Regions from separate parts of the Homo sapiens genome. Here region 1 is linked to region 2. Evidence: fine-mapped expression QTL. A gene starts in region 2. The other region holds a variant in brackets. All regions are shown on one strand. Distances are from middle to middle. Region 1 has its middle 21 kb from the start of LIPC. Region 2 holds the start of LIPC (lipase C, hepatic type).

Region 1 (11,804 bases), 21 kb after region 2:
TGCTGTACCTGTATAACTGTGTATCTCTTCTCAAGCCTGATCTTATTTTTCCTGTCTCAGAGGCAACGCCACCCTGAGTTTGGTGTCTTTCATTCTCATCTCTGTGTGTATATGTTTGCAGCATATGTATGTAGCTACGAAAAATATACAGTAGTTCCTCAGTATCTGTGTGGGATTGGTTCCAGGACCACCCACTGATGCTCAAGTCCCTGATACAAAATGGTGTAGTGTTTGCATATAACCTATGCACATTCTGTCATATGCTGTAAATCACCTCTAGATTACTTATAATACTTAATACAATGCCTATACATCCCTTCATTTGCCTGGTTTTAACATGGTACTCAGGATGTGGCAAATTCAAGTTTTGCCTTTTGGAATTTTGTATAATTTTCCCCCCAAATATTTTGCATCCTCGGTTGATTGAATCTATGGATGTGGAATCCCATGGATATAGAGGGATGATTGTACCATTATTTTGTATGTTTTCAAACTTTTATACTCTACACATCTATCTGCAACTTGTTTTGTCACTCAGCAGTGTATTTTCGAGATTTATCTCTGTTGATAAAACACCTACAAATGGTCCCATTTTAAGAAAGTATCAGAATTTGTTCATTGGGTTGATGGATACTTGTGTTATTTAGTTTTTTCATTTTCCTATTACAATATTGCAGTAGACATTGCATCATCCACAAGTGAAAGCTTCTAGAGTTTATTCCTAGAAGTGAAATTGCTGGATTGTAAGATATATGTCCCATCAGAGTTAGTAAGATGTTGACAATTTATTCTTCAAATAAATTACTTCCGTGAAAGTATCGTTGGCAAAATGTGAGTGTTCCTTCAGTTTTTCCACCTCATCACCAACACTTGAGGAGTGTCAGATTATTTAATTTTCACCAGTTTGATGGATGTAAAATGGTATCTCATTGTTTTAATTTTAAATTTTCTGATTACTGGTGAGGTTGAACATTTTCTTACGTGTGTGATTGTTCATTCAAATTTCTGTTGCTGAGAATAGCTTATTCATATCTTTTGTCCTTATTTCTATTAGTTCATTGCAGATATCCTCCCAGTTTGCATTTTATCTTTCATATCGCCTGTAATGTCTTGTTTCACAGAGTTTACATTTTTGTTTAATGAGATTTACACAGTCTTTCCCTTCAGGAATATCCTTAATGTCTTCATTTCTTCAATTTTCCTTTTTTTTTTTTTTTTTTTTTTGAGATGGAGTCTTGCTCTGTTGCCCATGCTGGAGTGCAATGGCGTGATCTCTGCTCACTGCAACCTCCACCTCCCGGGTTCATGTGATTCTCCTGCCTCAGCCTCGTGAGCAGCTGGGATTACAGGCATGCACCACCACACCCAGCCATTTTTTTTTTTTTTTTTTTTTTTTGTATTTTTTAGTAGAGACGGGGTTTCACCATGTTGGTCAGGCTGGTCTTGAACTCCTGACCTTGTGATCCACCAGCCTTGGCCTCCCAAAGTGCTGGGATTACAGGCATGAGCCACTGGGTCCAGCCCAAATAGTAATTCCTTTACAAAAGATATTCTGTGATTTGTTATAATCTTCTGGCATCAGTAGAATTTACCTTAATTAGTGGCTACATGCTATTGTTTTAATTTATAGCTGTATTTTATAAGCTCAGTTAAAAATGATTTTTCTGCCTATGCTCCTTGAGTAACCCATGGATAGATAAAATTTATTGATCAATAAAATTTAGCAAATAGACAGTATGCACAAGCCATTCCTGCCTTTTAGGTCTTTAGTAGATGTTGCTAATTGCCTGCATTATTTTCTTCATCTGTGTATTCATATATTCACTTATTCAGCAGCTGTTTTGGGAAAATCTGCTAATATCTTTGAGCCTGGTTCTAATCATTTCGAGCCAGTTTTATAGGAATTGGCACTTGTGCACATTTGCCATCCTAAGACCGTGTGTTTATGTGTGTGTGCGCCTGTGTGGTATTTCTCACAGGTTTGTGGATGGGGATAATACTCATCTCTTAGAATGAATTGGGTATCAGATCTTGTTTTTCTGTGATTTGGAACTGATTACATAATACAGAAAAATCTGTTTCTTGAGTATGTAGTAATATTGTTCAGTAAATTTGTTGAGGTCATAATATTTCTTGTGGTAGATGAGATTTTTTTAAATAACAGCTTTTCAGTTTCCTTTGCCTTCATCATTATTTTCATGTTATCTACATTTTCTCTTGCCAGTTAATATTTTGTGTTGTCCATTTGGCTAAGCATTTCAAGTTGATTATCATAAATTTTGCATTGCAATCATTTATATTTTAAAATCTTTTGTATCGGTTGTTAAATCACTAGCCTTGTTTTTAATTTTGTTGATTTATACCTTTTCTTTTATTTATTGTATTTCCAAGGGATTGATCTATCTTATAATCTTCTCACAGAATGAGCATCTAAATTTATGTATTATTTCCACTGATTTCCTCTTTTCTAGTTTATTTCTGTCCTTACTCTTTATTATTATCTATTTTCCTTTATATTGACTGTCTTCATAAGATTTTAAGTCAAATGTTTATTTCATATTTCTAAAATAAAAGCACATAGATTTACGCCTTAACTTCTGGGCTCTGATTTATACAAAGCCCCCTCCCTTTTGATATGGGGTGTTTTCAATTTTATAAACATCTCAAAAGTTGTTATCATGTTCTTAATTATCTACTTCACTGGTCCCTAACATTTTTGGCACCAGGGACCAGTTTTGTGGGAGACAGTTTTTCCATGAATGGGGGTGGATGCGTGATGGTTTCAGAATGATTTGAGCATATTGCATTTATTGTGTACTTTATTTCCATTATTATTACATTGTTAATATATAATGAAATAATGATATAACTATAATCTACTCACCGTAATGTAGAATAAGTGGGAGGCCTGAGATTGTTTGCCTGAAACTAGATGGTCCTGTTTGGGGGTGATGGGAGACAGTGACAGATCATCAGGCATTAGATTCTCATAAGGACCATGCAATCTAGATTCCTCACAGGCACAGTTCACAATAGGGTTTGTGGTCCTATGAGAATCTAATGCCACTGCTGATCTGACAGGAGGCGGAGTTTAGTGTGAATGTGACTGATGCGTAGCGACTGTAAATACAGATAAAGCTCTGCTGCTCACCTCCTGCTGTGTGGCCAGGTTCCTAACAGGCCACACACTGGTACTGGGGGTTGGAGACCCCTGTTCTACTTGAACTTGTAGTTTAGGAAAGTTTTTGTGGTTGTTAGACATTGATACCCATTAATTTGTTGCTGCTGTAATTTTTTATTAATATTTTAATATAATTTTAAACTTACAGAAATGTTAAAAGACTAGTATGAACTCCTATACACCCTTTACCTAGGTGCACTGTTGGTTTGTATTTTTCCCTAGTTATCATTCACTCTGTCTTTATGGATATGTGAATGTTTTTCTGAACAATTTGAGAGTAAGCTGCATACATACATATATATCTAAATACTTCAATATATATTTCTGGACACAAATATTTTCTTTTATAAAATTCAAGAAATTTAACAGTAAAATCAGGAAATTTCATGATACCATATGATTAATCCCACCATCCACATTCAAATTGTCAGTTATCCCAATATTGTGTTTTTTAATATATATAAAACATATATTAAAAACATATATATAAAACATATATAAATATAAAATATATGTGTGTTTTATATATGTGTGTGCGTATACGTGTATATATGTAGAAAGACAGAAATTGAGGGTATTTTAGAATTTACAATGACAGACAAGAAACTGAGATGGCTGTATGCCTACCGCAACCACCATCTGTAGGCCACCCAAGAGTAAATATTTATTTTCTTCTTGTACTCTGTTTTTCAGAAGTTCATGTTTATTTTCAAATTTACTATTTTTTATTATTCACATACTATATATTCATAGTAGAAAAGATAAAGCAATATAACAAAAATTGGCAGAAATATCAGTGCACAGAGATAACCACTGTTAGTATTTAGATGAATATTTTATAGACTTTTGCTTTCAATCGACAAAAACTCTAGATACTTTTTCTAGTTAAATATGAGTACATTAAAAATGGAGTTATATTGTACGGCTTACGGTTTTAACTCTCTTTTAAGTCTTAGTTTATTTGACATACTTATAGGTAATCTTCATAACAACTTTGCAAGGTAGAGCCTCATTTTTAGATGAGGAATCCAAGGTTCAGAGAGGTTCAGTAAACTGCCCAGGTCACACTGCAGTAAGGAATGTAGTTTATAATCTAAACCCCGAACTGTTTGCTGCAAAGGCTCTTGGTTAGATTATTCTTTTGCCCAAGGCTCCTTTCATTGCTTTTACTTATTCACATTTAGCTTTATTGCATGTGGTGAGAAAATATGTATATTTTTTCCTCTTGATTCAATTTTTAGGGCCTTATTTGAGAGTTAGTATATATGTACCAATGCCCCCATATGGAAAAAAATGTGTAATCTATGTTGGTATTGAGTTCAGTGTATGTCTATTGGTTCTAACTTATCAATTGTATAACATAACCTCTATTGTCTATTTTTGTCACGTCTTCAATGTCTTCTAAATTTTTGTCTATTTAAATTTGTCTTTATTTTTTACTCTTGTCTATTTTTTTCTTAGCCTTGAAATGAATTAAACTCTCCCTTTACAATTGCTTGTTTTTTATTCTATTTCTCTTTGCATTTCTGACTTTAGTAACCTCTGTCTTCACAGTTGATTTTCTATTTTTTATCATAATCAGGAGCTTCTTTGTATCCTCTCCCTGTGTTTTTGGCTTCAAAATCTCTTTTATATGCTATCAACTTTACCAACTATTTTCTTTTTGTCGTATGAGTTTCCTCATTAAACCTTTTTATTTTAGCATTTCTGCATTTTTTGGGTAACAGATTCCTATTTTTAAGCAACATACGTATTGTTGGGTCTTATGTTTTAATCCAATATGAGAATTTGTCTTTTTAGAAATCAATGGCCTAAGGCCGGGCGCGGTGGCTCACGCCTGTAATCCCAGCACTTTGGGAGGCCGAGGTGGGCGGATCACAATGTCAGGAGATCAAGACCATCCTGGCTAACACGATAAAACCCCGTCTCTACTAAAAATACAAAAAATTAGCCGGGCCTGGTGGCGGGTGCCTGTAGTCCCAGCTACTCGGGAGGCTGAGGCAGGAGAATGGCGTGAACCCGGGAGGTGGAGCTGTGGCAGTGAGCCGAGATGTTGCCACTGCACTCCAGCCTGGGTGACAGAGTGAGACTCCGTCTCAAAAAAAAAAAAAAAGAAATCAATGGCCTAAATATATAAAGTTCTTTGGGGAGAAGCTAGTGTATTGATATGAGATGGGCTCCCAGCTACTAGCTGTGGACTTTCTACAAGTTCCTTAAATACCCTGTGAGGAAGCTACTTACAGGCGTCTTTATCTGTAAAATAATGTTAATAAGCACACCAACGTGATAGAGTTGCTTCGAAGATTAAATGAGATCAAGAGCAATCAGAAATAGAAGCATATTAAAGCATATTAAACTGATTATTTGTAAAATGCAATTGTCAATATTTGCTATGATAGACATTATGTCTGGAAATACCATCCAAAGCAAGTTTCTTGGCAGTTAGAAAGCAAGTTGGTTAAACGATGATCTATGCTCAAAATGGGGATAATCAGTTCTATACTTTTCTCCAACCATATTTTAAATTTTTCTTTGAGATAATGGGAATAACTTACAAGAAAAACTGCTGAGAAGCAGTGGTCCAAAGCCTTTTTAGAAGCTCTCAGGGTTCAGTTCAAGTTGTCCATCTCCATTTCTGGCTGCACCTGGAGCTTCACAGCTTGACTTAAATTCGGCCATGTCAGGAATCACTCACTGCCTTGCTTTCCATTTAGTTAATTAAGTGCTTAGGTTTACAAATAAGTTATTTGCTCTCATGACGGGTATGGAAGCTGCAGGCTTTGCTGTGCCTTGGCAATTCTCATCAGGCGTGGAAAAACTGAAACTAAGAAAAACCAACCAAGCGATGATAGATTTTCCACTTCCTGGATTGTGTGACTTGCTCATCCAATGAAAGGCAATGAGGGTGGGGTGGGGGGCAACCAGAGATGAGGACTGATTCTCAGCTTGTTGTTCTCCTCAGCAGTCCTCCAGCCCCTGTACAG[C/T]TGGAACCTCTGCATCAGTGAAAGCTGCTAGGAATTCAAAGTGCGTTCACATTCACTTCTGCTCCTCAGGATCAGAGGCAGTGAGGAAAGCTAAAAAAAAGTCTGAGGTTTAAATTGGAACCCATTTTTAACTTTTCAAATGTTCTTGGTATTTTAAGATCCAGAAAACCTTAAATCAGACAATTCTATATTACCAAACTGAAGAATAGTCTATAATATCATAATCTGATATGCTCCAGACTGACCTGATTTATTTTTACTTGTATGAACTTCAAATCTGATGGCTTTTATTTGATCCCTCAGAGGATGCTGTAGGTCCATTTCCCATCTGATGCAATAGAGGTGTCTTTTTTTTTTTTTTTTTTTTAAACTTCTCTGATAATAATCATCATCTGGTGTCTTGTTACACAAATGTTTCTAAGTTCCTCCCTAGAGATTCTGCTTCAGTGGGTCTGGGATGGGGCCTCAGATTTGTGGTCTCTTTTTCTGTTTGTTTGTTTGTTTTTTTGAGACAGAGTCTCACTCTGTCATCCAGGCTGGAGTGCAGTGGCGCGATCTTGGCTTACTGCAACCTCCACCTCCTAGGTTCAAGTGATTTTCCTGCCTCAGCCTCCTGCTTAGCTGGGACTACAGACACACACCACCACACCCGGCTAATTTTTGTATTTTTAGTAGAGACGGTGTTCTACCATGTTGGCCAGGCTGGCCTCAAACTCCTCATCTCAAGTGATCCACCCACCTCGGCCTCCCAAAGTGCTGAGATTACAGGCATGAGCCATCGTGCCCAGCCGGATTTGTGTTCTTAACATTAGCTTGGGCAACAGTGGAGTAGACTGAGGGGATAGATTCTACTTTTACAATTAGAAAGCCTTGGGCTCAAGTCCTGGGTCTTTCACTTGCTCGTTATGTGGTCTTGCACAAATTACTTAATCTTCCTCAATCTCATCTGAAAAACAACTGGAGATAAAAATATCTAAAAGTGTTGTCAAGAGGATTAAAATAACTAACACCCTTGATAGCATCCACTTTTCTCAGTATTGCTAAATCATTTCTACCCAGGTTAATTTGAAGATTATCTGTGAATTTATTTAGCATGCAGGCATAATGTTTTTTACTTATTTTCCTTGTTTATTTGGTGTATATTTGTGAAGCTTTTGCTGTGTGCCAGACACTGCGATTTTTAGAACACACTGAGCACTCCCTGATGGTATCACCTGCTCACATGGTCCATCTCAGGTTGTGTTTTCGTTTTTGTTTTTTGAGACAGAGTCTTGCTCTGTCTCCCAGGCTAGTGTGCAGTGGTGCGATCTTGGCTCACTGCAACCTCCACCTCCCAGGTTCAAGCAGTTCTCCTGCCTCAGGCTCCCAGGTAGCTGGGACTACAGGCATGCACCATGATGCCTGGCTAATTTCTGTATTTTTGGTAGAGATGGGGTTTCACCATGTTTGCCAGGCTGGTCTCGAACTCCTGATCTCAAGTGATATGCCCGCCTCAGCCTCCCAAAGTACTGAGATTACAGGCATGAGCCACTGTGCCCCATCCATCTCAGGTTTTTGAAAGTACTACCCAGCTTTCTTGTGTGAAAGAAAGCAGGCCCCTAGTTATTCATGGAGCTTCTTGGATTAGGAAGGCCATGTCCTTATTCCTCCTTTGTACCAGAAATTCAATTTTTCTTGAATCTAATCGTGTATTTTTTTCAAAAGAAAATATATATAAAATTATTCGATTTGATTTTACACAGAATATGTTCCAGGTACTTTGCATTAAGTGAATTGTCTCTTTTTGGACAGAAAAACCTTTGTACTTTTCCCCCTCCCCTCATAATAGCAAGAATCCAATGGATTTTTGATGATTATGCCTATGTTTTCCTTATATTTAGTTTTGCTTCAAAAGAATTTAAAGCACTTTTAAAAGATAAAAACAATGCAAGACATTAAGAGGAAAATTAAGTAGGAAAAAAGGATGGGAAAAATATAGTGAATTGATAAATGAAATTACACTTCAAATATATGTTGTACAGTCTTTTATACTTCCCAGTGATGGGCCAGATATTTGGCTCTGAACTCTCTAGCTCTCATTGCAAACCCTCTGCAGACAAAAGATGGAGGTGATGATTCTCAAGCCATGTAGATGATTATTGGGATCATCATCTATATGAGTCTTGAACTTTGTTTTAACTTTTCCACTGGCCCAAGACTTTGGGTCCTAATCAACATTAGGGTCATTAAGAGTTTACAGAAGGGTCATGAGTACCATGGAAAACTATGTGCTCGCCAATCTTCCAGCCAAACACAAAATAGATCAGGGAATAAGGAGGCCTCCTGCTGCAGAGGAGATGATAGCCAGGTGGGAGAGCTGGGCCAAGGATCAGCCAATTTTCTGGTACAGAAAGTGTAACCATGGCAACAGTAGTGAAGGTAGCTCTAGTTCCATCAGCAATGACACCCTTAAGAGGTACCGGCAGAGAGAGAAGCCTGTTGTACATCTGGGCAAGGGTCTCGGTGAGGGAAGTTCATGTAATTTTTAAGCATAATCGTTGGGAGAAAATAAACAGCCTCTTTCATGTTAACCTTGCAAACTCAAATAGACAAAGTGAAGGCCAATGACTGGCGGTACTGCCTGGCTGAGGCTGGATGTGACTGCCTTGCCTGGGAACCTGTAGCCTGCCTCAGGTTTGCCTTTTATTCTCTTTACTTTCTAGTAACAGTGCTCACAGGACTTTCAATAAGCAAAGCCCAGAGGGGGAGAGTTGCTTTTGAAGCCACACTCTTGTCTGCCTCATTCATTTCAAACAGAGACACTTCTGAAAGAGACGAAGGCCTGTGTACAAACAACAATGCCCACTGCATTCTGTTGCCTTCAGCTGTGATGTGGTGGCTTTTGATTCTACACAGAAGGTCCTTGTTTCAGACACTGATTGATGGGTCTTCTGAATGGAGGAGGCAGCAAGAACAAATGAGCAAGGCCCCTGGTAAGGCCAGGTGCTTCAAGAGGATGGGCTGGAAAGTGCTTAAAATAAAAGGTAAACACAAGCCTCCACAACAGCAAAAAATACCAAGGCACTGAGTTCTGAGTGGTTGATAATTGGTAGTTCCTAAGGATTTCCACATGTTTGTGCAAACACATATAAGCTCCTTGGAGAACTCTGACCTGGAATTTCAGACTTTTTGGTGGAGGAACCAAAAGTTAAACCCAAATAGATGTCATAAAACAGGTAAAAGTAATTGAAATAAAGAGCACTGGAGGTCTGAGTCTGGTTTGAGGCAGTGAAACAGAAAATAATGCAGTGAAAGAACAGGTGATGGGGCATCTCCGTCTCAGAGAGGGTTGTGATTTTTCACCAGAAACCCATGGAAAGCCACATAAAGGCTCATTCTAAACACAATGGACAGTGTTAGGACCTGCTGTGAGGAAGCTGTATGAGATGTGCCTCCCTTCTCCATCAACCCTTGTCCTTCCGTTTTGCCTAACAGAAACAAACCAGTGAAAAATCCACATGAGAAATCTGGCTATACTCAGTACTTTTGCAAGAAAACACTATGAAACTCCCTGTGAGTCTGCATTCTTCATAGTCCGTGGGGGAGCGTGGTGCAGGCTGAGGAGATGGGGTGGGGATAGTGAGGGTGGAGGGAGAGGACGGGAAAGTTAAATGAAGCAGGGATCCTTGTCCTGATCAGTGGTTTTTATACATTATGTTCTTATAAAAAAATAATTTTCACCAGCTAGATGATGTTCTACTGTTTAACTAAATTAGGGGTGTTAAAATAGAGATCATAAGAATGACGGAATGGACTCTTTGTGGCAAAAAGATACTAAATTATAAACAAGACCCAAGGCCATGCCAGGGTAGGGTTAAGTCACACATCCCAACACTTAAAGAATAAACTAGGTTCTAATAGCTGCAAGGTTTTTCTTTTTCTCTAGCCGCTAAATAAGCACTGGCCTCTGGAGAAGCAATATTGAAATAATTGCAGCTCACCAACCACCAGACACTAACTCATCCATCTCCCTACCCCTTTTCTGCAAGCCATAACTACTACTTTGATTGGATAAGAGACTGATTTCAGTAACTTTCTCCTGGTTAAGAGTCCACTGACCATAGACTGGTTCTGGCCAGTTTACAGAGGCTTGCACAGAGTGCCTTCCTGTCCCCTGCTTCACCATTTGACCTATAGGACCTAATTGCAAGGAATTTAAATGTTAAGTCTGTACCCCAAAGTGAACATGGGACGCATGTAACATGCATGTTTGTTTACTAGGCATGTGTGTACCTGCCTTCGGGAATATTCATAGCTCTTCCTATAACCTGTTGAATATGTGTACTTAGCTAACCCGTTCATCACAAATTCCTGTTCTACTCTTTCCTCCCTCAAAGTGCCTGCTTTTGGTTTCTGCTGGAGGCTGTGCTTCCAAGCCTGTGGGATTTCCAGCCTGCAGGCTGCAACCCTTTATAAAAAACAAACCTCTCCTCTCCAATATTATAGCTCTGTGAATTTATGTTGACAGGTTAATAACTCAATTTCACAGAAAAAAATTAAATCAGACACTCTTTTTTGCCCACCCAACAGCCCTTCTCTCCTTTAACTTTTCACTTGCAGAGTCCTACTTTTGATTGGCAGTCCACCTGTCCCTGTCATGATTCAGGGAAACTTGACCCTATCCTGAACTCCAGGAATAAGTCCTAATTACATATTTTTTAGTGGTAACTGTGGTAGGTAAAATTTTAAGATGGTCTTATGATCTTTACCCTCTGGTGTCACATCCATGAGTATGGCAAAAGGCTTATTATCTATATTATTATCTAATCACATGAGCCCTCTTTGGCTAGTGGCAGAAGTGGGGAAGTCAGAGAGATTCAAAGTATGAAAAGGATTCAGTACATCATTGCTGACTTTGAAGATGGAGGGTGCCAGGTACCAGGACTGAGAGTGGCCTTTGGCATTGAGACTAGTCCCTGGTTGACAGCCAGCAAGGCCATGGAGACCTCAGTCCTACAATTGCAAGGAGCTGAATTTTGCTCACAACCTGATTGGGTGTGGAAGTGAATTCTTCCCAAGTCTCTAGATGAGAGGTTAGCCCTGCTAACACTTTGATTCTAGCCTTGTAAGTACATGAGCAGAGAACCCACTCAAGCCTTCCTGGACTTCTGACCTATATAGAACTGTGAGAATCTAAGTGGGCATTGTCTTAAGCTGCTAAGTCTGTGGTTATTTATTTTGCAGCAATAGCAAACGAGTAGAGCAACAGATATATAGTGTCAAGAAATCCAATCCATATTTCTGTTCAAGAGGAATTCGTTTTCAGCTCTGACCCTGACCAGGAATCAGAAAGTTACCTATGGTAGAAGGGGTGGATTAGTTATCCAATAACCCTCTTGACTTTTTTCCTTATGCACAGCACCACACACCCACTATGAAGGTCACAAATACTGGATTCTTGCTTTCCTAGCTACCCTTGCTGCTGGAGTGGTCATGTGACTGGGATATGCCTTTGGCCACAGACCTCTGAGAACACTAGACTAGAGCTGTAGCAGCCATTTTATAGCCACGAGGCAACAAGTCTAAGGATGGTAGAGTGGAAAGAAAGGAAGGTCTTGTTTGTTTCATGACAATTTTGAGCTAAGGTGCCATCTCTGGAA
Region 2 (11,804 bases):
TTTCCCGGGGGTCGTCTTGGGATGACCAATCTAACTGTAGCTGATCAGGGCCTTTTTATTTTATTTTTCTTGTACATTTAAGTACTTAAATCCTCCAAACCTTAAAACCCTTTATATATCTTTAAATATACTTAGAATCTCTAGCAATATACAGCATGTGTCTACAGTGTTTTCATAATTATGATTCAACATGTAGATTATTTAGTCCTGTTTTTTTTTCCCTACATTATTGCATATACAATTTTCTTATACTTGTTTTACAAAGCTGCAAGACCAGTTGTTACTGAGCTTTTTCAGAGGTCACAGGTCCCTTTGATAATTTGCTGAAAGTTATGACACCTGCTCCCCACTCAAAATGCACACACACACAGCCTTGGGCACCATCTCAGGAGGCTCAACGACTCTTGGAAACCCATCCTCTGTGCTAAGATCCCTGGTGTTAAACTGTGAGTGCTTAGGGGCCAGCAATAGGCTTTTGTTTCTGAACTTCATCATTATTGCCCCCAAAAGTTTCTGTGACTTCTAGTAGTAGGTATTCAAAACCATGCCTGTTCGAAGTTGGACTTAGCAGTAGCTGGAGTCCCCAACTTCAGTGGTTTGCACTTGGGCATTCACATTGTTTCCAGTTTGTTGCAGTTTAACAAGTGTTGCTATCAACACCGTTCTATGGGATATTTTTTCTTTTTCTTCCTAGATGGTCTTTTTTGAAAGGTATTTGGGCTTGAAAAGCACATGTACTTTATCAGCTGTGTACCTCTGCTATTGTACAAGGAAAGCCTCATTCTCTTCTGTCCGGATACCATCCTTCAACACCCTACTCAAATGCCGCCTCCTCCAAGAAGCCTTCTTCCCTCCACTTGGAAGTAAAATCTGCTTCTCTACTCATTCCTCTCTCATGGTCCTCATCTCATGCCATGTTCTGTTCTAGCTGATAACATTTACATATGTGACTCAGTGGTATACCTCATGTATTTGACACACAGAACGGATCATTTTAATGACCCTCTGCTCTATAAGACAAAAGTATTTTCAGTCATATTTATGTAAAAATCAGCAATCATCACTACTTTCTCGATTTCTTCTTTAGTTATAAAGCAGTGAACAATTTTTAAAAAGACAAATACATTTTAACTTTAAGATATTCAAATGCAGTAAAAATATTTTTCGTATGAGTCCAAATTTTTACCTATCAAACAAGATGTTACAACTCATTGTTCACAATCTGTTTTGTTGCTTTAAATTTTAAACACATATGAGAAGCTTACAGGGGTCACCTAGGATGAGAGAATTGAAATAATTCAAGTTCTGGTTTTTTGTTTGTACAACCACTACGCTATCATTTTTTGTTTCAAATCTACTGTTTACATGCAGAAGCAGGTAATAAGTGCCACTGAGGTTGGAGACATAAGGACGTCAAAGGATCTGAACCATCGCACACTTACTCTTGCAACAAGAACACGCCCCTGAGTCTGTGCATGTTGGGGCCAAGTGCATAACCGGGAGTTCTCCAGATTAATGTCAATGTAGAACACAATATTTATGAAAGGATAAATAATAAAGATGTGATGAATTTGAAGCTTACATATACTTACTACATAAAATCCAACAGTAACCACGGAGATTGTTTAGAACTTAGGCCATAAAACCATTTTTTTCTGGAAAGAGCTTTGCCTTTATCGCTGATACTCTTTCTTTTGGGATGGAGTTTCACTTTGTTGCCCAGGATGGAGTGCGACGGCGCCATCTCGGCTCATTGCAACCTCTGCCTCCCGGGTTCAAGCAATTCTCCTGCCTCAGCGTACCAAGTAGCTGGGATTACAGGTGCCCATGACCAAGCCTGGCTAATGTTTTGTATTTTTAGTAGAGATGGCATTTTACCATGTTGGCCAGGCTGGTTTTGAACTCCTAACCTCAGGTGATCCACCCACCTCGGCCTCCCAAAGTGCTGGGATTACAGGCGTGAGCCACGGCGCCCGGCTGACATTCTTTATAATTGTGATAATGACAGGCAGATCAGCTTTTGGTTATATTTGTATTTAAATTCTCCACAGACGGTTGCTCTTTTATTGATGGCACATCCCCCCTCCACCCAGTCCCATGGCCCCCTATTCCCTCCCCACCCCACTCCCACCCCATTTGACTGTAAATTCCTGCAAGGTGGGGACGGCTGTGCAGCCCCCTGTTGTACAGTGCCCACTGCACAAGCGCAGTGGTTTGCAGGCCAAGGCCCCAGGGAGATCGCCTTAGGATGTCCTCCCTTTTCCTCTATGGGAGGCCAGATTTTCTTCCTACATTTCAAACAAAGCAATACATCACAACAGACTGAGTACAGAAACAGGTAAGATAATCCAGCTGTCTTGGGAAGCCAGATATTAGAGAGATTTGCAACATTTCTTTGTAAAACAATGTCACTCTTCTCCATTTAAAACTTATTTGGAAAATACAAGTTATTTTTCATAAAATTACATTATATGTGTTAATATGCAAGGGTTTATTATCATTTTAAAAAGTGTTAGCAGATTTTAAAGATTTCTCAGTTTTAATTTCTAATGAAGGAAATATTGATATCTCACATAATAAACACTGTTTGGGGTCCTCAGTGATTTTTAAGAGAGGAAACGTGTGAACAGAGTGTGTGAGTTGTACTCAGGCACTGCGTTACGTATGGCAGGTGCTCATGTATGCTTGTGACACTCATGAGGGACTGACTGAATAGGTAGCTTTCAGCTGCTCCTAGGATTTGCAAGCTGAGGCTGGGGTGGAGGGGAGGGAGAAGGTGCCTGTTGATAGTGGGCCCAGTACCGGGAAGGTGGGACTTGCCAGGGTCTAGGAGCAGCGTTGGCTCTCATGGCAACACCGACTGGGGAACCTGGGTCTCAGGCATTGGGGCTGGGCATAAGTGTGATGTGCCATGTGGGCTTCAAGCAGCTCACGCTATCCAGTCCCCCTTAGTGCTGAAGGGCAGGAACAACTGTCTAAATCTCCCTCTCTGTGAGAGGAACTGAGCAGAATGTTTTTCTAGAAACCTCTGGCTGTCAAATCACTGGGTGTGGGCTCGACACAGAGCACTGCGGCCTCAGTAGACAGATTGAGGCTGCAGGTACCTCTCCCTGCTCTGCCCTGACCAGCTATGCGACCGCCGGCAAGGCACTTAACTGCCAGCTTACTCAACCATATGGTGAGGATGAGATAAAATGTCCGTGGAGTGCCTGGCACATGCTGGGTGTGCAGCACATTAGTGACTCCATTAGTAAGATGTCATTAATAATAAATACTCAAAAGAAGTAGGCTGGGAGGAGGGGCTAAAGAGGAAGGGTCCTTGAGGGAGTACTTCCTGGTGCTCGATGAGTGACAGTTGAAGCTTGGCATAGATCATGGTTTCTCAGCCTCTGCACTAATAATGTTTTGGGCCAGACAATTCATTGTTGTGAGGGCTGTCCTGTGCATTGTAGGATGTGAAGCAGCTTCCCTGGCCTCTACCCACTAGATGCTGGAAGGGAAGCACTCTCTCCCTGGTCTTAACAACCAAAAACCAAAAATGTCTCCAGACATTGCCAAGTGTCCCCTGGAGGGCAAAATTGCCCCTGTTGAGAACCATTGGTGTAGAAACTTTCCTGACAAGGGCTCCACCACAGGACACCGGCTTCCCTGCGGTTTCCCCAGAAAGACATCATACCAGCCACATGCACACAGATTGGGCTCACTCATTGCAGAAAGAATTCTGCCAAGAGATTCTGCTTCCAAGAGAACAAGAGGCCTCCTGACTTGGATCCTCTTTTCTGAGGAACCCTCTTGCTAATAGTGGCCACTTCTCTCAGCATTTGCACAAACTAGGCCCCGGGGAAAGAAGCAGGCTGATCAGGACAATGAGATTGCTCAAGGAAAATCTGGACAATACCCAGAAGCCTGGGGGAGGCCATCCCTCCCTTCAACCTCTATCTCAGCACTGACAGCTTCCAATTCCCATGGCTCCATTGCAAAAACAGTCCTGGCCAATCCACAGTAGAATGGATAAAGGAAGTGTGGCATGGTCCCGCAGTGGAATGCTACAGCAGTGAGAATGAATGAGCCTCAACTCCACGAAACTGCATGGTTGACTTTCACAAACATAATGTCGAACGAAAGAAGCCAGACGCAAAAGAGCAACTGATGTGTTTCTATTAATGAAAAATCTCCCCAAAGGAAAAAATCATATATGTTAAGGCTCAAGGGGCACACAAGGAAGGCTTTGGGGTACTGGTTCAGTTTGTGAGAACTCATTGAGGATTTATGATAGAGGCCCTTTTCTAGAAGTGTGTTATAAACTTCATTAAAAAGTAAACAAACAAATACAACATTCCGGGGCAAAGGGCAGGAAAGGCCCTTTAGCAAAATCACTATGAACCAAGGGAATAAAGATTACCAGCAATTTTACCTGTATGGCTCTAAATTATTATGTAAGGGTCATTTTTGGATGTGGCTTTATAAATGAGATGATGTGTCAAAAATAATTAGTATAGTGCTTGGCACAGAAAATACTTAGTGAATGGCAATAATTAATACTGCTACTCAGTTATTAACTGGCCTATGAAGTAAAATAGTCAAATACAAAGGAACAGCCTTTTTCTTAAAGGGGAAAAAAGCTTCTGAAATTTTTAGGTACATCCCGTTAGGGAATTTCTAATTCTCAAAGTTGTCGGAGCTCTCTCCAAGGCTAGTCTTAGAGAAAAGAAAAATCTCAGACTCTACCTTAGCGTTACTAGCTCCTGACCAGTAACCAGTACCAAAACAAATTCCCAAACACCTGTCTAGTCTGGCCAAATTGTTCAATTAACTGATCCGTCATTTATTGGTCCACTGCTTAGCCTGGAAGCTGGGCTCCACTCTACTACCTTCCTGATAAGGCATTTGATCTGTCTTTCGCCATCAATCTAGTTTGTGAATTTACAAACAAAACAGGCAGGACGGCTGTTGGATTCTTCAGCCTCAGACTAAAATTTTGGCAGCAAAACAAAGTCTAGAAATTGTGCAATGATATCTCTACTTTAGACCTGACTGGAAATAGAACTCTCATAAATTCCCCTCTCTTCTGAGAGAGGCAGGCAATTAGACAACCCCAACCCGACAGAGCATTTCATTGCAAGCCTGGCTCCCCGGTTGCAAATTAGATGCCACATTAACTCTCAGGAAGATCTGAATCGCTTTCATATCATTTGCCGCTGAATAACTTTTAGCATGACTGTTTCCATATCAGATACGCAAGAGACTTCACTGCTAGCTGCAGGCACTCTTAGAAGACTTTTAATCCGAGGATGATTTTCTAAAATTTCATTTCTGTTTACAAACGGCTACGTGTCCCTGTGAACCTGTGAGGTCGTGTATAGAACCACCTGGCACGCTCTGAAGCAAGCTCTGTCCCATACAGTCAGAAACCCCTGGATTCTTTGTGACACACGTTTTAAAAAGAAAAGTTCATGCCCATCTCTGGAGAAAAGTCAGGCTCTTACCTGGTTTCAGGCTTTGTCCAAGGGCACTTGATTGGATAAAGATGCATAAAACCAACAGAATGGAGAAACACAGGGGACTTGTGTCCATTTCTCCGTTTCACCCGGGGTCCAGGCTTTCTTGGTAATTTCTGAAGCCAAAGAGACCACAATGCCTATTAGATACTTTGTTAGGGAAGACTGCCCATTAATAATTAACCTCTCAACATGTTATCCACTGTTCAGACCCTTTCTTTACTGCCCCCAACTGCAAATCTAATTATATCTATTTTAAAAAGGTCGATTTACAGAAGTGCTTCTTATCCTGACACATTTTGAGAATAAAATACCTTGTTATGTATTCTTACCTTTTGGGGCCAAGGTCAGAGTTCCAAATTAATCAACTTAAAGCTACTGTGTTGTGTTTGGAAATTCTGCCAAAGGTCGGGGTAGGTGGCTTCCACGTGGCTGCCTAAGCCTCCCTGTGACAGCGCTGCAAGGGGGATGCTGGCTCAGGAAAGTGGTGTTTCAAATTGCAGCCTAAGCCCAAAGAAAAAGAAAAGGGCCCTGCCACGCAGAGAGCCCCCAGAGGGTCCAAATTTCTGTTGGGTTCAGTGAAATTGGTGATGCTTGTGGTCAAAGTGTGGTGCAGAAAACCCTTCACCCCCGTGTCAAAAGGAGCTGACGAAGAAGCAAAGATGCCCTTGCCAAGTGACCCATTGAGAGGTGATCCTAGAGTAAACACACTTCTTCCCCCTCTGTGTTCATTAATGTTCCAGCTGTGTAGAGGACTGAAAAGTAAGGCCACTCAGCAAAATCAGGTAGGGAAAAGGCGACCATAGATGGCTTTTGTGATATTTTTGGACCTCTAGTTTTACTTTAACTTTCTTCATTTGTTCAACATTTATATATTTTGGTATGCCTACTAGGTGCCAAGCACTGTTGCAGGCACGTGGGGTATACAAGTCCTTATGTATCAGTGGAGGTTCTTACCTTCTGGAGTTGGATAACGGACAGTAGACATAATAAAGAAGAGATTTCTGGCCAGGAGCGGTGGCTCACTCCTGTAATCACAGCACTTTGGGAGGCGAGGAGGGCGGATCACGAGGTCAGGAGTTCGAGACCAGCCTGACCAACATGGTGAAACCCCATCTGTACTAAAAATACAAAAGTTAGCTGGGCGTGGAGGTGAGTGCCTGTAATCCCAGCTACTCAGGAAGCTGAGGCAGGAGAATCGCTTGAACCTGGGAGGCGGAGGTTGCAGTGAACTGAGATCGCGCCATTGTACTCCAGCCTGGGCGACACAGAGAGACTCCGTCTCAAAAAAAAAAAAAAAAAAATTAGGTAGACTGGTAGAATGTAATGGGAACCACTACAAGAAAAGCAGGGGGTTGGGGAGAAGGTAGGGATTTTAAGCAGAGTGGTTAGAGTGAATTGCATTGGGAAGTTAAACTTTCAGCAAAGGTTTGAAGGAAGTGAAGGAGTTGCCCCTGTGGACGTCTTGGGGAGGAGAGCTTCGGGCAGTCTGTGCAAAGGCCCTGAGGTAGGAGTATGCCTGGTGTGCTCCAGGAATAGCAAGGAGGCCAATGAATGGGGAGACATTGTAAGGACTTTGACTTTTATGCATTGACACATGGGGGGCGACTCTGAGCAGAAGGGTGATATGATTTGTATTATAGTTTTAAAATATCACTCTGGTTTGCAAGTGAGCCAGGGTGCAGTGGGGAGATCTGTTAGAAGGCTATTACAGTGGCCCAGTGAGAGGTGATGGTGGCGTGGCCCAGCATGGTAAAGGGCAACTGCGGAGTGGTGGATGGGTGGTGGATATATTTTGAAGGTAGAGCCCACAGGATTTTCTGACTGCTGAGTTGTGAGATGTGGGAGAAAGAGAGGAGTTAAGGATGACTTCCAGGTTTTTTGGCTTGAACAAGCAGATTAATGGGGTTGCTGTCAGCTGAGAAGGGGAAGCTGTGAGTGAAGCAGGTCTGTTGGGGGAAGATTAGAGATTCAGCCTTGGCCACGTGGGGCTTTGAGATGGCTCTTAGACATCCAAGTGGAAACGTTAAGCGGGCAAAATTAGATAACATGGTAATTATTGCCTGGACGAGCCTCATTCAAAGGGCCTTCTGAAGCCACCACCAGACTTGGACGATCTTGACCCAGTCTAAAGCTGTGTTCTGTCCTATGACTGTACCTTCCTCCCAAGCCCCGAAGCTTGCGGACCATCCCGTCAGATATACAATTTCTTTTTCTTTTTCTTTTTTTTTTTTGAGATGGAATCTTGCTCTGTCGCCCAGGCTGGAGTGCAGTGGCGCGATCTCGGTTCACTGCAACTTCCACCTCCCAGGTTCAAGCGATTCTAGTGCTTCAGCCTTCAGAGTAGGTGGGACTACAGGTGCCCACCACCATGCCTGGCTAATTTTTGTATTTTTAGTAGAGACGGGGTTTTACCATGTTGGTCAGGCTGGTCTCTAACTCCTGACCTTGTGATCCACCCACCTCGGCCTCCCAAAGTGCTGGGATTACAGGCGTGAGTCACCGTGCCCATCAGATATACAATTTCTGAGCAAGGACTTCTGCCTTGGATACTTGGCTGGCTCCTGCACAGTTAAGCAGAATCTGAAAGTTCCACTTTTTTTCCTATAAAGCTGGCACGTAAGACCAGCTGGCTACCCATCTCGGGCTCCTCTCCCCTGTGCCCACCCTCATCTCCTCTCCTCTGGGTACTGCCAGTAACCACCGCCACTCCCCATTTTATTCGGGACACAAACTCATCAAAAGACACCAGTGAATCCAAGTGCCTCTGAAATACCAACCGTGTGCCCCCACCCGCCCCCCAAATTTCTGCAGAGTACACTTTCTTACCACTTTCTACGTGGTAAGAACACTTTCAACATGGGAAGAAGCCTTCAAGATTGTTTCTAGCTCTTGTAGTTCCTTTACTTGCACCACCCCAAATTCCTCTAACATCATCTCATGCCAACTCAAATTCTATAAGGCTCTCCTGGAAAATGACAAGGAGGAGTGGGTACCTGTCCCCTTTCAGGGTGTTGTCTGCTTTCACCTCTACCTAAGCTCTTCCAGCCTGCCCCATCACCGGGTCTGACCTTCCAGTGGTGGTTTTAATGCACAAGCTCTGTTGTGTTTTCTTGAAGCTGACCAGGGAGGCTACTGGCAGGGAAGAGGGGAGGACTTCACAGAGTATGAGATTTCCTGAACTGGGGGGGTCCTAGGCCTATCTACTTGCTGTATATAATATTATATAACCTTAATGAGTTCAATCTCCTCACCTATAAAATGGGGACAACATGTATCTGAGATAATATTTTGAGATATCAACTTATTTTTCTCCCAAACTGTCTCCCTTCCACTTAAGAGGGGCAAAGTAGAGAGAAGGCTACAAATCTTTTGTCTTCCAAAAATATAGGACCTTAGGGCAAGTGAATTTTATTTTATTTTATATTATTTTATTTTATTTATTTTAGAGACAGGGTCTTCCTATGTTGCCCAGGCTGGCCATAAACTCCTGGGCTCAAGTGATCCTCCTGCCTTGGCCTCCCAAAGTGTGGGCAGGTGAATTCTAGCCAACAAAGAAAAGCAAAAGACTAACATTTCTTGAGGGGATGTGAAGGGAGAAGGAACCCCTCACCTTGCCATCACTAGAAAGACATTCTCTTGGGCTTTGCAGGTGGTGTGGAAGGGGGAGGTTTGTCTATGGGTCTGAGAGCAGAGGGGACAGTACCTTGCTTCCCAGAAATCCTGCTGGAAGAGAAGAACCCAGGGAGGAAATGGCTGTGTTGGCACATGGGCAAAAGATATACCTGGCTTGATGTAGGGTGGGAGAGCAGTGAGTCTCTGGGGCCAGCAGGTCATGTTGATGGGAGGATGGGCCCCTCAGTGGCCACCAATGTGGACTGATGACAGAGGACTAGGTCACACTCCCCTGACCCCATGCCTGGCTATTGTATTTGTCCAGAACTATGGCATAACTACTGGGGTTGGGGGTGGGGTGGGGAGAAGAAATCCAGAAGGCCTGAAAATAGGGGTTAAGAGTCAGGAATTTAGATGGGTTACAGAGAATAGAGAAATTTATTGCACATCAGAATCTCTGGACTGAAATTAATACCTCTAGGAAAAGAGGTATGCCATGAATATTAGAGATTTGTGTGTAAGGTGTCAAGCCAAGTGCCTGGTTCATAGTAGAGGGTCAATAAATTATAATGACCTATTTTGTGGGCAATATACTTAGTGGTCAAGGGTCCATGCTTTGAGGCTGGGTGCAGTGGGCAGTGGCTCACACTTGTAATCCCAGTGCTTTGGGAGGCTGAGGCAGGAGGATCACTTGAGGCCAGGAGTTTGCGACTAGCTTGGGTAACATAGCAAGACCCCATCTATATAAACATAAAAACCAAAAAATTAGCCTGGTATGGTGGCACACACCTGTAGTCCTAGGTACTTGGGAGGCTGAGGCAGGGATATTACTTGAACCCAGGAGGTGGAGGCTGCAGTGAGCTATGATCACACCACTGCACTCCAGCCTGGGTGACAGAGTGAGACCCTATCTCTAAAAGAAAAAAAAAAAAAGAGTCCAGCCTTGGGAATCCGACAGATACAGGCTTGAATTCCTAGTCTGTCACTTGTGCTTACTAGCTGAGTGAACTTGGATAAGACATTGTGACTGAGCTTTAGTTTTCTTCACCTGTATAATGGGACTAATAATACCTCCCTAGTCTGATTAAGTGAGGCAATGCATGTGAAGCCCTCAGCAATCCTAGGCCACAGGAAATAATTAATGGTAGCTAATTTTTTTTAATGTTTAAATTCACTGAGGGGATCACGAAGGTGTCCAGGAGGTAGATAACAATAAGACCACAGTGATATAATTGTAGCAAAAAATGTAAGGGGCAGGAAAACACAAGGGTCTGGATCAGTGGCTGCAAAATCCAATTGAGCATGAGAATAAGAGTCAGCTGGGGAGCTCAGACAATGACAACTTATGGGCCCATCCCAGGAATACTGAGTAATGGAATCAACACTAGGGTCAAGGCCCAGTGAACCTTCATTTTAAGCAAGATCTCCAAGTAATTCTTGGTTACACAAAGTTTGAGAACCATTGCCTCAGAATGGTGCTTGAGAGATCTTCTGGGGCAAAAGAAGAAAATAATATAGACCTTTCAGATTTTTCTTTGTATTTCCTTAGACAGTTCATGTTTGTGCACGTATAATGTTTATAGCATATAAGTACTATATAATTTGCAGGTGGTACTACGGAATATACTAGTGCTATATTATTTATAAACAAATAAATAGATATTGGGGATAAGATGTGTTGTCAAAAAATGGGTAAAGCCTCTGCCTTAGAGAGACAGAATGGCTCCCAGGGCTGCCAGACCTGACTGTCATGTGCTTGACTCCAGCCATGCATCTGAGCAGTCAATAGATCCATTCATAGCATCTTTGGTCATTTCCATGCCCAAGGAAGCCCAGCAGTTTCTTGAGGCCTCTTCATTTCCTATTAGCTAAAGAGGAGGCAAGCCTGAGCCTCTTAGAGTTTGGAGCCTCCAATGGAGTGATCAGCATGGTGCATGTTAGCAGAGCTCTGTGGCTTCATCCTTTGCAATTCTTTTATTTATTTATTTATTTTTTGGGGGGATGGAGTCTTGCTGTGTTGCCCAGGCTGGAGTGCAATGGCATGATCCCGGCTCACTGCAACATCTGCCTCCTGGGTTCAAGTGATTCTCATGCCTCAGCCTCCCTAGTAGCTGGGATTATAGGGTGTGCCACCACACTTGGCTTTTTTTTGCTTTTTTTTTTGTATTTTTAGTAGAGATGGGGTTTCACCATGTTGGCCAGGCTGGTCTAGAACTCCTGAGCTCAAGTGATCTGCCTGCCTCAGCCTCCCAAAATGCTGGGATCACAGGCATGAGCCACCATGCCTGGCCTCTTCCTTTGCAATTCTTTAAAGACGTTTCTATTTTGGGTGACATTGCACTCTGGTCTGCAGTCCTCTATCTAAAGTAATAATGGTTTTATAATTAGGTTTTTAAACATTGCCCAGTTCTTGCTCTGTCTTAATTTACAGAGCTTCTTGAATAAATAAAGATTTCAAGAGAGTGGCATTTGATGACCTGAGAATGACCTTTTTCTTTAGTGTCATGGTGATAAGAAAGTTAATTAGGAGAGAAGAAACAGATATTTTACAAGGATAAAGCAAGCAAATCCCAAGAGGAAGAGGCCAGGGGACCAAGTTGAAGTTCACTGATGACAGAAACAGAATTTTATACCCAGAATCAGGTTTTCTTCTTTTCATCTTCAGGAACTGGGATATCTTACCTGAGAAAG

What was found.
Region 1: its variant is fine-mapped to the expression of LIPC in whole blood (TOPMed, PIP above 0.99).

The regions. Positions count from the first base shown.
Region 1 is chr15:58,404,751-58,416,554 of GRCh38, reverse strand. No RefSeq gene overlaps it. Among named protein-coding and RNA genes, the nearest start is that of LIPC, 21 kb to the left of the region's middle. RefSeq lists a silencer at 5,791-6,085. The variant C/T (reference allele first, on the strand shown) is at 6,166.
Region 2 is chr15:58,425,803-58,437,606 of GRCh38, reverse strand. LIPC (lipase C, hepatic type) reads right to left here and starts at 5,616. Exons shown (of 9, transcript NM_000236.3): 1 at 5,487-5,616. The coding sequence starts at 5,574. It overlaps LIPC-AS1 (LIPC antisense RNA 1), which reads left to right. Exons shown (of 3, transcript NR_120338.1): 3 at 695-2,706. RefSeq lists a silencer at 7,303-7,597 and an enhancer at 7,303-7,597.